Regions from separate parts of the Homo sapiens genome. Here region 2 is linked to region 1. A link means that fine-mapping ties the variant in region 1 to the expression of a gene that starts in the linked region. Tissue or cell type: whole blood. Region 1 holds a variant in brackets; the other region holds the start of a gene. All regions are shown on one strand. Distances are from middle to middle.

What was found. PIP is the estimated chance that this variant, and not a neighbour inherited with it, causes the effect.
Region 2: it holds the start of UQCRC2, and the variant in region 1 is fine-mapped to the expression of UQCRC2 in whole blood (TOPMed, PIP above 0.99).

The regions. Positions count from the first base shown.
Region 1 is chr16:21,304,986-21,313,094 of GRCh38, forward strand. It overlaps the pseudogene ABCA15P. Among named protein-coding and RNA genes, the nearest start is that of CRYM, 31 kb to the left of the region's middle. The variant G/A (reference allele first, on the strand shown) is at 3,497.
Region 2 is chr16:21,949,624-21,957,732 of GRCh38, forward strand. It overlaps UQCRC2 (ubiquinol-cytochrome c reductase core protein 2), which reads left to right and starts at 3,738. Exons shown (of 14, transcript NM_003366.4): 1 at 3,738-3,833; 2 at 7,612-7,695; 3 at 7,794-7,943. The coding sequence starts at 3,801. It also overlaps a transcript of PDZD9 not described here. RefSeq lists enhancers at 3,071-3,530, 3,619-4,336, 3,851-4,020, 4,031-4,080.

The sequences.
Region 1 (8,109 bases):
TGAGACGAGATCGCGCCATTGCACTCCAGCCTGGGCAACAAGAGCAAAACTCCATCTCAAAAAAAAAAAAAAATTAATCATGTATTAATTGAGATTTGCAGGGCCGTGTGCTTTATATAAAACAATGCACAATGCACTAAGCTCCATGGTGTTTGAGAGACAAAGGAGAACAAGATACCATCCCCACCACTGGGTAGTTTAAGATTATTGTCTGTATCCAGTATATAGCAATTGTAATGATTTCTAAAATGTTTTTCTATTGAGATACAGTTTACATGAAATGAAGTGCTCAGATTTTGAGTGACAGTTTGATCAGTTTCAAAGAATGTGCACACCTAATCAAGACACAGAACATTTCTGTAACACCAGAAAATTCCCTCTTGCCCTTTCCTAATCAATCACAAACCCCTCCCCTATAACCATTGATGTCATTTTTGCCTATACCTTTATATGAATGGAATCATGCAGAAGATACTATTTTGGGTATCTTACTTTGTCTTCCTTGTACCCCTTTGTGAAATCCTCCCATGCCTAGACCTCGACAACTGCTGGTCTGTTTTCTGCCCCTGTAGTTTTGTATGAATTCTTTACGTATTCTGTTTGCCCAGGCTGGAGTGCAGTGGTGTGATCTCAGCTCACTGCAACCTCTGCCTCCCAGGTTCAAGCAATCCTCCCACCCCAGCCTCCTGAGTAGCTAAGGTTACAGGCATGTGCCACCACACCTGGCTAATTTTTTTTGTATTTTTTATCAGATATGTATTGTGAATAAATACCTATTGTGAATAAAATTCTTTATTAGATATGTATTATGAATATTTTCTTTCTCCACTTGCATTTCTGTTTCCTTAGCAGTATCTTTACAAGAGTACATTTTTTTTTTTGTATTTTAATGGAGTTTAATTTACCAATTTTTCCTTTATGGCTCATACCTTGGGTATGCAAAGTAAGAAATCCCTACCCCCTTGAAGGTAACAGAGATTTTCTCCTAAGTTTCTTCATTTTATTCATTCCTCCTGTTTTCTTTTAAATTTGTACTTTTAGCTTCCTTCATTTAGGTCTGTGACCCATCTCGAGTTAATTTCTTGTTCCTAGTATGAGGTAAAGTTGGTGCTATTGTTTTTCCCCCATAAGGATATTCAGTTATTCCAGCACTGTTTTTTTTAAAGACTTCTCTTTGTTCCCTTGGTACTTTTGTGGGAAAAAAAAATTGACCATCTTAGTGTGGGTCTATTTCTGGACTCCGTTCAGTTTCATTGATGTATGTATCTGTGTCTTCACCAATACCACACAGTTTTAATTACAGTAATTTTATATATCTTGAAATCAGATAGTATAAGACCTCTAGTTTTGTTCTTTTCTAAAGTTGTTTTTGACTATTCCAGCACTAGAATTTCTACACAGTTGCTTATTGGAACTTTGATGGGATTGTATTTATTTTCATAAAGGCTCACCTACAATGTGTTGTAAAGCTTCTGAAAGTAAGTAATGACTTGTCAGTTTTAATTGACACTATGGTTATGAGTGAATATGAGGATCTTTTGTTATGTTTGAGGACTATTTTTCTTTGAACTGTTTTTTTTTTTCATTTTTCAAATTTTTTTTATTATACTTTGAGTTCTGGGGTACATGTACAGAACGTGCAGTTTTGTTACATAGGTATACACGTGCCATGGTGGTTTGCTGCACCCATCAACCCATCACTACATTAGGTATTTCTCCTAATGCTGTCCCTCCCCTAGCCCTCCACCCACCGACAGGCTCCAGTGTGTGATGCTGCCCTCCCTGCGTCCATGTGTTCTCACTGTTCAACTCCCATTTATGAGTGAGAACATGGGGTGTTTGGTTTTCTGTTCTTGTGTTAGTTTGCTTAGAATGATGGCTTCCAGCTTCATCCATGTCCCTGCAAAGAACATGAACTCATCCTTTTTATGGCTGCATAGTATTCCATGGTGCATATATGCCACACTTTCTTTATCCAGTCTGTCATTGGTGTACACTTAGGTTGGTTCCAAGTCTTTGCTATTGTGAATAGTGCAATTCACGTACGTGTGCACGTATCTTTATAGTAGAATGATTTATAATCCTTTGGGTATACACCCAGTAATGGGATTGCTGGGTCAAATGGTATTTCTAGTTCTAGATCCTTCAGGAATCACCACACTGTCTTCTACAATGGTTGAACTAATTTATACTTCCACCAACAGTGTAAAAGCATTCCTATTTCTCCACATCCTCTCCAGCATCTGTTGTTTCCTGGCTTTTTAATGATCACCATTCTAACTGGCATAAGATGGTATCTCATTGTGGCTTTGATTTGCATTTCTCTAATGACCAGTGATGATGAGCTTTTTTCCATATGTTTGTTGGCTGCATAAATGTCTTCTTTTGAGAAGTGTCTGTTCATATCTATCACCCACTTTTTGATGGGGAGAACATTTTTGCAATCCATCTGACAAAGGGCTAATATCCAGAATCTACAAATAAATTAAACAAATTTTTTTTTCATTTTTCTAATGGTTATCCCTCCCCCTTCAATTTATAGACCTCTTCATATATATATATGTATATATATGTGTGTATATATACATATATGTGTATATATGTGTGTATATATACATATATGTGTATATATATACGTATATATATATATATGTGTATATATATACGTATATATATGTGTATATATATGTATATATATATGTGTATATATATATATGAGAGATTAGCCCTTTATCTGTGATACAAGTTATTTTCTCCCAGTTTGTTATTTATCTTTTGGCTTTGTGTTGACATTTACTTCATAAAACATATTTGTAAGTACTATGTTATCAGACTTATCTTGATACTAGATTTTGATTCATGGAGACTTTTCCCACTCCCACATTTTATATTTTTCCAAATGACTATCCATTTGTTACAACACCATTTACTATAAAGTAGAATTTTTTCCCAGTTAGTTGGGATGTTACCTATATAATAAACTAAATTTCTATATGTATTTTGGTTTATTTCTAGACTTTCTATTCTGTTCCATTTGGCTGTCTTTCAATTTACGTACCAGTACAACACATTTTTAACTACAGAGACTTTATAGTATGTTTTAATATTTGGTAGAGCTAGTTGCACAGCTTTTCCTATACGTTGTCTTCTAGTAGTTTTATAGTTTCAGGTATTACATTTAAGAATTTAATCCGAATGGCCAGGCGTGGTGGCTCACGCCTGTAATCCCAGCACTTTGGGAGGCCGAGGCAGGCAGATTACGAGGTCAGGAGATCGAGACCATCCTGGCTAACACAGTGAAACCCTGTCTCTACTAAAAATACAAAAAATTAGCCAGGCCCACGTGGTGGTGGGTGCCTGTAGTCCCAGCTACTCGGGAGGCTGAGGCAGGAGAATGGCATGAACCTGGGAGGCAGAGCTTGCAGTGAGCGGAGATCATGCCACCGCACTCCAGCCTGGGCGACAGAGTGAGACTCTGTCTCAAAAAAAAGAAAAG[G/A]AAAAAAAAAAAGAATTTAATCCATTTTGAGTTGATTTTGTACATGGTATAAGAGTCTAATTTCATTCTTTTGCATGTATAATCCACATTTCTAAACTCCATTTATTAAAGACACTATCTTTTCTCCCATTGTGTGTTCTTGGCATCTTTGTCAAAAATCCATTAATTGGTGGTAAATGTGTGAGTTTATTTTGGGGCTATCTATTGTCTTCCTTTGGTCTATGTGTCTGTTTTTATAGCAGTACCATGCTGTTTTGATTACTGTAGATTTGTAATATATTTTGAAGTCAGGAAGTATGATGCCTCCATTTTGTTCATTTTCCTCAAAAATGTTTTAGATATTTGGGGTTTTGTGGTACAATAAAAATTTTATGACTTTTAATCTATTTCTTTGAAAAGTGTCATTGGGATTTTGATAGGGATTGCATTCAATCTGTAGATCACTTTTGGTAGTATGGACATTTTAACAATATTGTTTCAATCCATGAACATGGAATATCTTTCTTTTTATTTGTGTCTTCAAGTTCTTTCATCAATGTTTTATGATTTTCAATATACAGCTCTTTCACTTCCTTGGCTATATTTGTTCATAAGTATTTTTCATAGCTATCGTAAATACAGTTGCCTTTTTTATTTCACTTCAGATGGTTTAATGCTAATGTATAGAAACTTTTTTTTTTTTTTTTTTGAGACAGTTTCGCTTTTGTTTCCCAGGCTGGAGTGCAATGGCGAAATCTCGGCTCACTGCAACCTCCGCCTCCCAGATTCAAGTGATTCTCCTGTCTCAGTCCCCCAAGTAGCTGGGATTACAGATGTGTGCTACCATGCCTGGCTAACTTTGTATTTTTAGTAGAGATGGGGTTTCACCATGTTGGTCAGGCTGGTCTTGAACTTCTGACTTCAAGTGAGCCAATTGCTTCAGCCTCCCAAAGTGCTGAGATTACAGGTGTGAGCCACCATGCCCGGCTGAAACTATTATTTTTGTATGTTGACTTTATATCCTGTAACTTTATTGTATTTTATTAGTTCTAGCAGTGTTTTCACTGACATTTTAGGGTTTTCATGTTATCTGCAAACAGGAACCATTTGGCTTCTTCTTTTCCAATTTGGATGGCTTCTCTTTCTTTTTTTGCCTGATTGCTCTGGCTAGGTCTTCCATTACTATATTGAATAGGAGTCGTAAGAGTGGACATCTTTGTACCTTTCCTGAGATACTTTTGGAAAAAGCTTTCTATTTTTTACTCTTGTGTATGATATTAATGGTGAGCTTGTCATATATAGTCTTTATTGTGTTGAGTTACATTCCTTCAGTGCCTAATATGGTTAGAGTTTTTATCATGAAAGGATATTGAATTTTGTCAAATGCTTCTTCTGCATCTGTTGAGATAATATATGGTCTTTGTCCTTTATTCTGTTAATGTGGTGTATTAATATTTACTTGCATATGTTGAACCATCCTTGGATCTCAAAGATAAGTCTCACTTTATTGTGGTGAGTGAATGATCCTTTTAATATGCTGTTGAATTCAGTTTGCTAGTATTTTGTTGAGGATTTTTGCATCTATGTTCATCAGGGATATTAGCCTGTAATTTTTTTTTTTTTTTTGAGATGGAGTCTCACTCTGTTGCCCAGGCTGGAGCGCAGTGGCATGATATCAGCTTACTGCAACCTCTGCCGCCTCCCACGTTCAAACAATTCTCTTGCCTCAGCCTCCCGAGTAGCTGGGATCACAGGCATGTGCTACCATGCTCAGCTAATTTTTGTATTTTTAGTAGAGATGGGGTTTCACCACGTTGGCCAGGCTGGTCTCAGACTCCTGCCCTGCTCATCTCGGCCTCCCAAAGTGCTGGGATTACAGTCATGAGCCACCGTGCCTGGCCAGCCTGTAATTTTCTTGTATGTCCTTGTCTGGCTTTGGTGTCACGATAGTGCTGGCTTCATAAGATGTGTTTGGAAATATTTTTTCTTCAACTTTTTGGAGTTTGATAAGGATTGGTCCTATTTCTTATTTAAATGTTTTGTAGAATTCAGCCCAGAAGCCATCTGATTCTAGGCTTTTCTTTAATGGGAGACTTTTTATTACTGATTCAATCTTTTTTTTTAATCAGTCTATTTGTTATCAGTCTGTTGTCAGTCTATTTTATCAGTCTGTTATCAGTCTGTTCAGATTTTCTTTTTCTTTGTGATTAATACTTGGTAGGATTAATACAGGTAGGAATTTTTTCATTTCTTCTAGGTTATCTAATTTGTTGACATAATTGTCATCATAGTCTCTAATGATAATTTGTATGTCTGTAGTATCCATTATAATGTTTCCTTTTTTATTTCTGATTTTACTTGAATCTCCTCTCCTTTTTTATTAGTTATTCTAGCTAAAAGTTTGTCTGTTTTATCTTTTTCACAAGTTTTGTTGATTTTTTTTCTATTGTTTCTTTAGTCTCTATTTCATTTATTTCTGCTCTGATCTTTATTTTATCCTTCCTTCTGTGAACTTTGTGCTTAGTTTGTCCTTGTTTTCCTAGTTCCTGGTTTTCTAGTTTCCAATTGTAGTTCCTATACCTAGTTTCTAGTTATAATGTTAGGGTGTTTGAGATCTTTCTTCTTTTTTGATGTAGATGTTTATTGCTATAAACTTCACTCTTAGAACCATTTTTGCTGTATACTATATATCTTATATATTTTTGTATGTTGTGTTTCCGTCTTCATTTGCCTCAAGATATTTTTAAATGATCCCTTTAATTTCTACATTGACCCATTGGTTGTTTGGGAGAATGTTGTTTAATTACCATATGCGTCTGCATTTTCTGAAATTCTGTCTATTTTTGATTGTTAGTATAATACCATTGTGGCCGGAAAAGGTATTTGAAATGGATTTCAGGCTTCATAAATTTATTAAGATTTATCTTGTGGCCTAACATATGAACTCTCCTGGAGAACGTTCTGTGTGTGCTTGAGAAGAATGTGTACAATTGACCCCCCCATATCTGTGTGTTCTACATCCACAGATTCAACTCTGGGCCAAAAATAGTAAAAAAATAATAATATGATAATAATGCAAATAAAAAGCAATACAGTGTAACAAATATTTATATAGATTTTATATTAGGTACTATGAGTATCTAGAGAAAATCTGAGGCATAAGGAGTATGTGTGTAGATTATATGCAAATACTACACCATTTTATATAAGACATTGAGCATCCATGGATTTTGCTATCCTCAGGGGTCTAGAACTAGGCATTAGCATTGTGCCTAGTTGGGGCTTACCTGTAGCCTGTGTCCACTGGTGCCAGCCTGGAGGCTGGGTGTATGGTTGCTAGTCCAGAAGCTAGGTCTGTGAAGAACTGAGTCCTGGAGCCATGGTAGTGTCCCCAGAATTGGTGGGTTCTTGGTCTCACTGACTTCAAGAATGAACCCACGGACCCTCGCGGTGAGTGTTACAGCTCTTAAGGTGGCGCGTCTGGAGTCTGTCCTTTCTGATGTTCAGATGTGTTCGGAGTTTCTTCCTTCTGGTGGGTTCGTGGTCTCGCTGGCTCAGGAGTGAAGCTGCAGACCTTCGCAGTGAGTGTTACAGCTCTTAAGGCAGCGCGTCTGGAGTTGTTCGTTCCTCCCGGTGGGTTCGTGGTCTCGCTGGGCTCAGGAGTGAACCTGCAGATCTTCGCGGTGAGTGTTACGGCTCATAAAAGCAGCGTGGACCCAACGAGTGAGCAGTAGCAAGATTTATTGCAAAGAGCGAAAGAACAAAGCTTTCACAGTGTGGAAGGGGACCCGGGCGGGTTGCCAATGCTGGCTAGGGCAGCCTGCTTTTATTCTCTTATCTGGCCCCACCTACATCCTGCTGATTGGTAGAGCTGAGTGGCCTGTTTTGTCAGGGCGCTGATTGGTGCGTTTACAATCCCTGAGCTAGATACAAAGGTTCTCCACGTCCCCATCAGATTAGTTAGATACAGAGTTTCGATTGGTGCACTCACAAACCTTGAGCTAAACACAGGGTGCTGATTGGTGTGTTTACAAACCTTGAGCTAGATACAGAGTGCTGATTGGTGTATTTACAATCCTTGAGCTAGACATAAAGGTTCTCCAAGGCCCCACCAGAGCAGCTAGATACAGAGTGTTGATTGGTGCACTCACAAACCTTGAGCTAAACACAGGGTGCTGATTGGTGTATTTACAATCCCTGAGCTAGATATAAAGACTCTCCACATCCCCACCAGACTCAGGAGCCCAGCTGGCTTCACCTAGTGGATCCCGCACCAGGGCTGCAGGTGGAGCTGCCTGCCAGTCCCGCGCCGTGTGCTCGCATTCCTCAGCCCTTGGGTGGTCGATGGGACTGGGTGCCATGGAGCAGGGGGTGATGCTCGTGGGGGAGGCTCGGGCTGCACAGGAGCCCATGGAGTGGGTGGGAGGCTCAGGCATGGCGGGCTGCAGGTCCCAAGCCCTGCCCCGCGGTAAGGCAGCTAAGGCTCGGTGAGAAATGGAGTGCAGCACCGGTGGGCTGGCACTGCCGGGGGACCCAGTACATCCTCTGCAGCCACTGGCCTGGGTGCTAAGTCCCTCACTGCCCGGGGCCAGCAGGGCTGGCTGGCTGCTCCGAGTGCGGGGCCCGCCAAGTCC
Region 2 (8,109 bases), 640 kb after region 1:
TGTAGTGAGCTCAGATCATGCCATTCCACTCCAGCCTGGGCAACAAGAGTGAAACTCTCCAAAAAAAAAAAAAAAAAAAAAAAAAAGAGGGAGGAGGGAGGGAGGAAGGGAGGGAGAGAGAGAAACAGAGAAAGAGAGACAGAGAGAGAGAGAGAAAGGAAAGGAAGAAAAGGAAAGGAAGGAAGGAAGACAGCTATCAATTTACATTGCCAGGGTGAAATTCAACAAAACTGTTTTAGGGTAAAGATCCTCAGATCCACATGGAATTGCCCTGTGGGCAAATTGTAAGGTAAGTTATGTAGCTTTTTATCCTTATAGCTATCTTATTTAGGAATAAAACGGGAGGCAGGTTTGTCTGACATCATTCCCAGCTTGAATTTTCCCTTTGGCTTAGTGATTTGGAGGCCCTGAGATTTTTTTTCCTTTCACACTTCCTAACTCATTTTATCTATGACAGAAAAATGCATGAATGGGGGGAATGAAAGTGAAAGTTAAAGCCAGTATCACTCTGGAACATAAATGCACAAATCCTAAACAAATAAGTAGCAAATTAGGTCTAGCAATATATTAAAAGAATAAAACATCCAGACCAAGTTGGGTTTATAACAGGAATGAAAGGTTTATTTATAATTTGAATCAATCAATATAACTTAACACAGAATAAGACCAATCTGTTCACCTCAATACATGGAAAAAGTATATGTGACCAAAAACAATAATTATAGAATATTAGAAATTGATATGAACTTTTTTTTCCCCCCCGAGACAGAGTCTCGCTGTGTCGCCTAGGCTGGAGTACAATGGCAGTGATCTCGGCTCACTGCAACTTCCGCCTCCCAGGTTCAAGCAATTCTCCCTGCCTCAGCCTCCCGAGTATCTAAGATTTCAGTCAACTGCCACCATGCCCGGCTAATTTTTGTATTTTTTTTTCAGTAGAGACAGGGTTTTGCCACGTTGGCCAGGCTGGTCTTGAACTCCTGACCTCAGGTGATCCACCCACCTTGGCCTCCCATAGTGCTGGGATTACAGGCATGAGCCACTGTGCCTGGCCCAGGGAATATTTCATCAGAGATAATACCTGACAGGGTAGGATTCTGAAAGGAATGGGGAAGGAAATGCCAACATCGAAATTATGCATTGGGGAAGCCATGATTAATGCCTCTGGCCCTAAGATGGCAAGGTAATGTTGTTCCCAAGTATAAACCCACATCACCTTCCTCTGGTGTGTTTTACTCCTACTGTTGCCTGCTTTCTCTTTACATTCTCCCACCCCATACTCACCGCGAGCGCTCAGGCTAGGTAGTTAGGCTCCATAGAGTCAAATTGGACCCCACATTAACGAAACTAACAATTCGAGCTTTCCAGCAATGAACTCATCTGCTCTTCCATGTCTACTCTTTTCCTGTCTGCTGGTTTCCTCTCCCAGGGCTTTCAGTGTGTTCTACGCAGAAACCAGTTCAAGGACTGGGTTTTCTTCTGCAATAAAATGCTGGAGTTGTGGCAGAGACCTCCACAGTGAGAACAGCCACGGAGTTGGCTAGGAGGTGACATGATGTGGAAGTGGTGGATGTGTCCACAAGATGGCACTCCTAATTTGTAGCTTAATGCTTAATAGGACATTTTGCAATTGACAAACTTGGGATTTTATGATTTATGTAGCTGATATCATGAATTATGTTTCAAATCCTGCCACATTTTGAACAGAATTTATTTTTGCCCCTTTCTGATATTGGGTCATAACCTAAGAATGAGAGGACATTATAAGCAGGTGTGGGTGTGTGTGTGTGTGTGTGTGTGTGTGCACTTGAGTGTGGAGACTTTTGTGTTCCTCCTACCTGACCTGAACTGTTGAATGATGAAGTTACAATGATTGGACTCAGGGGTGCAGCTAGCTAACTTGGGAATTGGGGTTTTGAAGTACTGGAGACAGCTTTGTATGCCATGTTAATGAATTTGAATTTTATCCTGAAAAACGTGGCTGTCGTTGAAGAATTTTAAGCAGGCAGGTGGCTTGATCAGAGCACTGCTTCCCAGATTTCACTCAATGGTACCTGTATAACACATTCATGATTTTTGCTGTATCTCCGTATCATCAAGTTACTTAACGTTTTTACACCAACTTTTATTATTTTATAAATGTACTTAAAGAGGAAATTCACTACTAGCATTGCTTGCCATAATCAAAATAAATATATTATTAAAATGGAACAGTGCTAAATAAGGTGTACACATGGACATAGAGTGTGGAATGACAGACAATGGAGACTCCGAAAGGTGGAGGGGTGGGAGAGAGGTGAACGATGAGAAAGTACTTAATGGGTACCATGTACATTATTCGGGTGATGGGTACACTAAAAGCCCAGACTTCACCATTACTGCAATATATCCATATAACATAACTGTACTTGCGCCCCTTAAATTTATACAAATTTTTAAAAGGAAAAAATGGAAGTGTTCATCTATGTACCAACTTAAAATCATCTCACGCACCACTAGTGTTAAATCTACCACATGTGGGGAAACTGTGTGGTATGAATTGGGTTGAGGGCGTCCCCAGCAGGCACAGAAATTGGGTTGGTGCCAGGTTCTTAATGCCCAGATCTTAATTAGAGAGCCCAAGTCCGTTGTAGGCCTGGAGCAATTCAGACACAAGGCAAAAAGAAAGTACATTTGCCTATGCCTTGTAACGTCTACACCACCAGCCTTTCTGAAACTATTGTGCATACGAAGTCATCCCAGGATCTTGTAAAAACACCGATTCGGATCCAATATGGGACCTGGAGTTCATACATTTCTAATCAACTCCTAAATGATATTGATGCTGATACTGTCGGTTTCCCAACCAAGCAACGTAGCAAGGTACGAAACTCTAAAGTCCCTAAAGGGCAGGGACCACGCCTCTCGCGTTGGCATAGTGCCTAGCTCAAGGCACTTTCTGGGTTAACACTCGCTGAGGACCGGAGTGAACGCCCCCGCCCCAAGTCGTCACGTGACTGACTTTCTCCAACTGCCGGTTTCGGCTCACATAACACACCTACTATCCAAAACATTTCTATTTTCCTAACACAAAAACTATAGCTAAGTTTTTATATTCTATGTAGCCCCAGCCTAGGACGTAAATTCCACGAGACCAAAAGCCTTGTGATGATTCCCCGAGGTTGCTGACCCTCCCGGTGTGTCCCGGGCCTGCTCTGGGGGACACAGCGGCGAATACGTTGAACGAGGCCCCTGTTTCACGGAGCTAAAGATCCAGTAAGGACTTCACCCAGCGAGAGGCAACTACGCCGGGCTTCGATACCCAATACCTCTGCAGAAAGGTGGAGTGGCAGGAATCTCCTGAAGCCTCCAACGTCCAGGAACGCGGAAACCCAGGGCCTCCAGTGCAGGTGTCATCCCGGAGGGCGCATGCGGAGTCCCAAGAGAGGCGCGTCCCATTGGACAATGCTGAGCGGAAGAGCCCAAGATAGCGGGGGGAGTTGTGACAGGCTGCTGCAGACGTACTTAGAAAAGGGGTGCATACTGGATATTCAGGCTAGGAGAAGAACGCAAAAAGCAGTGACGTACATTATTCTCTGCATATATTTACTTGGGAAATTGTGCGTCTCCCTATTCTGAGTCTTGGAGGAATTGGACTGGTCCAACCTTATAAAGAGAGCAGTAGAGCGCGGCAGTATAGAGAGTACCTCACGAAGGGGACGTGGGAAAGTGTTAGCGGGGAACGCTGGGAAACTCCCGGCCTCCGCCACCATCTTGCTTTCCTTTAATCCGGCAGTGACCGTGTGTCAGAACAATCTTGAATCATGAAGCTACTAACCAGAGCCGGCTCTTTCTCGGTGAGCTCAGGTGGCGGGTTTGGGAAAGGGCTGGGGAGCAGTGTGTCGACAAGGTGATACGAGGCGGAGGTGTCTGGTCTGGGGTCTGGGCCTTGGGATTCGGTCTGCCCTTCAGCTGAACCCTGCGGGCCAAGTGGGCTGCAGACTGGGTCAGGCTTTGGAGGCCCAGCTCATGCTGTGAGCACAAGAGACCTAACACCGGGAAACCTGAAGAGAGGGGCAGGACGTGAGAGCGGAGTTGAAGCGAGTCCTTGGAGAGACTTCTGAAGGTCACTCCGGTACTCAAGTGCTGGAGAAAGAGACCGTGAAACCCAGGGGGAGCGGGAGGACGGCGCACTTAGCCCCCCACCTTCACTTTATCCGCTGCAGCCTCTGCTCCTTGGTTTATCACGGAGCGTCAGTTTCCCCAGCGAATAAAAGTATAAGAAAGGAGCTAATGCAGATAGAACACTTATTACAGTACCTGGAACTTCATTGTTAAATACTATGGTGTCTTAGTAGTCTAACGTTGCTTTTCTTGATCGTATGTTAGACGGTTCCTCCAAGACGTCTCTGTTTGTCCTCAAAAGCTCCTTAATTAAGTTTCCCCTTCAAGCCTAAATTAAACATAGCTGTCACTTGGGGAAAACTCACACATCAGGGTTATATCACTGTGGGACAGTGGTTATTAAGAGGGGTAAGGGGGAACACTTAAAAAATCATAGCGAGGGACAGAATGCCCCCAGGGAACCGGTGGCGATGTTTGGAGACATATTTAGTTGCAACAACTTGTAAGGAGGGTGCTATTGGCATGGAGAGGCCAGGGATGCTGCTAAACTTCGCCTTACAGCAAAGAATTATCTAGCCCCAAGTGCCAGTAGTAGTACCTGTGTTGAGAAACCCCCCTAGATGGAGATGCAGAAGACCAGACCTGGGCATGGAATGTTCTTATGCTTTATGTTTACATAAATGTGCTGTGGGCTATATCGATTTAGGCTGTAATTGCATTAACCTTCCAGGTATACCTAGACACACCAGTGATTACCCTTGGAGGGAAGCACGGTTAGATTGGCAAAAGACCCCAACATTTCCTTCTCCATTCTATTTTGCAACAGAAAAAGCTCAGAGAAAACAGTTGGAGAGGCCCAAAGTAAACAAATTGCAGTAAACTTGAAAGCAATTATTTATGTGTCTAATTTTAGCACTTTATATAGGAGAATAAACTTAGATATATCTTGTTATTAGAACAAAATAATTTAGAAGATTGCATGACAGTTACTAGGATAATTTGCTGATTTGAATGGGACGATTAAGAAGCACATTACCGGCGGAGCGCGATGGCTCACACCTGTAATCCTAGCACTTTGGGAGTCAGAGGCAGGCGGATCACTTGAGATGAGGAGTTCGAAACCAGTCTGGCCATCATGGTGAAACCCCGTCTCTACTAAAAATACAAAAAAAAAAAAAATAGCCGGGCGTGGTGGTGGTGGGCGCCTCTAATCCCAGCTACTCAGGAGGCTGAGGCAGGAGAATCTCTTGAACCCAGGAGGCGGAGGTTGCAGTGAGCCGAGATCGCACCGCTGCACTCCAGCCTAGACGACAGAGCGAGACTCCGTCTCAAAAAAAAAAAAAAAAAAAAATTACCAACAAAGAGTTACTATTTGGGCACATTTGGTTGGAAAACACCTAAAATCTCACTTGGTAACGGAATTATAGATTATTCATATTTGAATTGCTATGCCCATATATCTTAAAAGTTTACTTTTTGGAAAATTATAGGCCAAAATTACAAAGAAGGTTAACTATACCATACCCAGCAAACTAAATTGATGACGATAAAGTAAAGCTAATTGTAATTCATAACTGAAAAGCAGTACTAAAAGCAAGTGATAACCAGCAGCCAACCTAGTACAGCACTAATGATGTACAACAAACAGCCTTCTGGACAGCACAGAGTGGAGGCATTGCAGACTGTGCAGGGATGTCCGGGAAACTCCAGTGAGGAGGTGTTCATTGGGTCTTGGGAGCACCAAATTTTATTCACTCATCATCTCCTCTAATAACCTCATGAACTTTAGTCATAATCAGAATGATTTGTATGGCATTGTATAACATTTGCCAAAACAAACTGAATAAAATGAATGCATTTTGGGTCCATTATCTAATATTTAATGGGACCCTTTCACCCTACCAGTAACTGCATTTTATATATTGAGAATCTGATGTGGATGAAGCCATTATTAATCTCAGGATGACATACATGTCATAAATGTTTTATTTAGTCAAAAAAACTAAGACCTTTGGTTGTGTGGTCTTAATACAGCACACAAGAGTGAAGATACAATGGAAAATATTGAGGGCTTGGAGGAAGTTGGTATATACTTTGTCTTTTTCTTTTTTTTTTCTTGAGACGGAGTTTTGCTCTTGTTGCCCAGGCTAGACTGCAATGGCACAATCTCGGCTCACTGCAACCTCCGCCTCCCGGATTCAAGTGATTCTCCTGCCTCAGCCTCCCCAGTAGCTGGGATTACAGGCATGCATCACCACGCCCCGCTTATTTTGTGTTTTTATTAGAGATGGGGTTTCTCCATGTTTGTCAGGCTAGTCTCGAGCTCCTGACCTCAGGTGATCCGCCCACCTTGGCCTCCCAAAGTGCTGGGATTACAGGCGTGAGCCACCGCACCCGGCTAGTTTGTCTTTTTTAAAGGTTACTAAGATGATTAAGGAGATGAAACCATTTCAATTGGAAATTAGACTGAACGGATGACATTCATTGGGCAGATAAAAGAAGCAAGAAGCTGAAACCTATAAAAGGTTGTGGACACAGGCCAGGTGTGGTGGCTCCCACCTGTAATTCTAGCACTTTGTGAGGCCGAGGCGGGTGGATTGCCTGAGCTCAGGAGTTTGAGACCAGCCTGAGCTATGGGGTGAAACGCCATCTCTACTAAAATACAAAAAATTAGCCAGGCGTGGCAGCATGTACCTGTAATCCCAGCTACTTGGGAGGCTGAGACAGGAGAATCGCTTGAATCCAGGAGGCAGACATTGCAATGACCCGAGATCGCACTGTTGCACTCCAGCGTGGGACACAGAGCACGACTCCAACTCAACAAAAAAGGTTGTGGATGGGGTGATCTGACACTTTTTCAAAAAATGCCAAAGCTTTAGAACTACACAGAACCATGAAACTTTTATAAGGTAACTGAAAGATAAGAAAATACAGTGATTCTTTACATCATTTAAAAAATAAGCATCAAGAACTCTATAAATCACTAATAAATAGAGGTTTAAGAATGGCTTGGGTAAACTGGTGGGTTAGTAAGTCCATAATAAGTTATGCAGCTAGGCGGGGTGCAGTGGCTCACGCCTGTAATTCCAACACTTTGGGAGACCAAGGTGGGCAGATCACTTAAGATCAGGAGTTCAAGACCAGCTTGGCCAACACAGTGAAACCCCATCTCTACTAAAAAATACAAAACAAAAACTAGCTGGACATGGTGGCACGCACCTGTAATTCCAGCTATTTGGGAGGCTAAGGCAGGAGAATGGCTTGAACCCAGGAGGTAGAGGTTGCAGTGAGCTGAGATTGCGCCACTGCACTCCAGCCTGAGCGACAGAGAGACACTCTGTCTCAAAAAAAAAAAAAAAATGTTATGCAGGTAAATCCTCCCATGGAGGTGGTTATTGCTCCTTCCACCCCCGAACACCCTCTGTCGCTTGGGTACCCTAAGATACCATGCTTTTATATAAAGCACTGTTCTTGTGAGAAATACGTGTAACCTGTGTTTTTTATGTTTAGAGATTTTATTCCCTCAAAGTTGCCCCCAAAGTTAAAGCCACAGCTGCGCCTGCAGGAGCACCGCCACAACCTCAGGACCTTGAGGTTAGTCCCACTAACTTGCTCGCTGGAAGCTATACATGCCTTACTCTCCTTGGTAATACGAAGACATTCATTATATCTCTACTTTATTTTAAATACAGTTTACCAAGTTACCAAATGGCTTGGTGATTGCTTCTTTGGAAAACTATTCTCCTGTATCAAGAATTGGTTTGTTCATTAAAGCAGGCAGTAGATATGAGGACTTCAGCAATTTAGGAACCACCCATTTGCTGCGTCTTACATCCAGTCTGGTGAGTATCTTCACTTCCTCAAGTGTTTGGAAATGCTGTGGTATCTTGGTCCTGTGAAAAAGAAAAACTAAGATCAATGTCTTTATATTTTGATTCCTTGACCTGCCATAACAAATTACCACGGACTGGGTAGCTTAAACCAAATAAGTTTATCCTGTTACAGTTC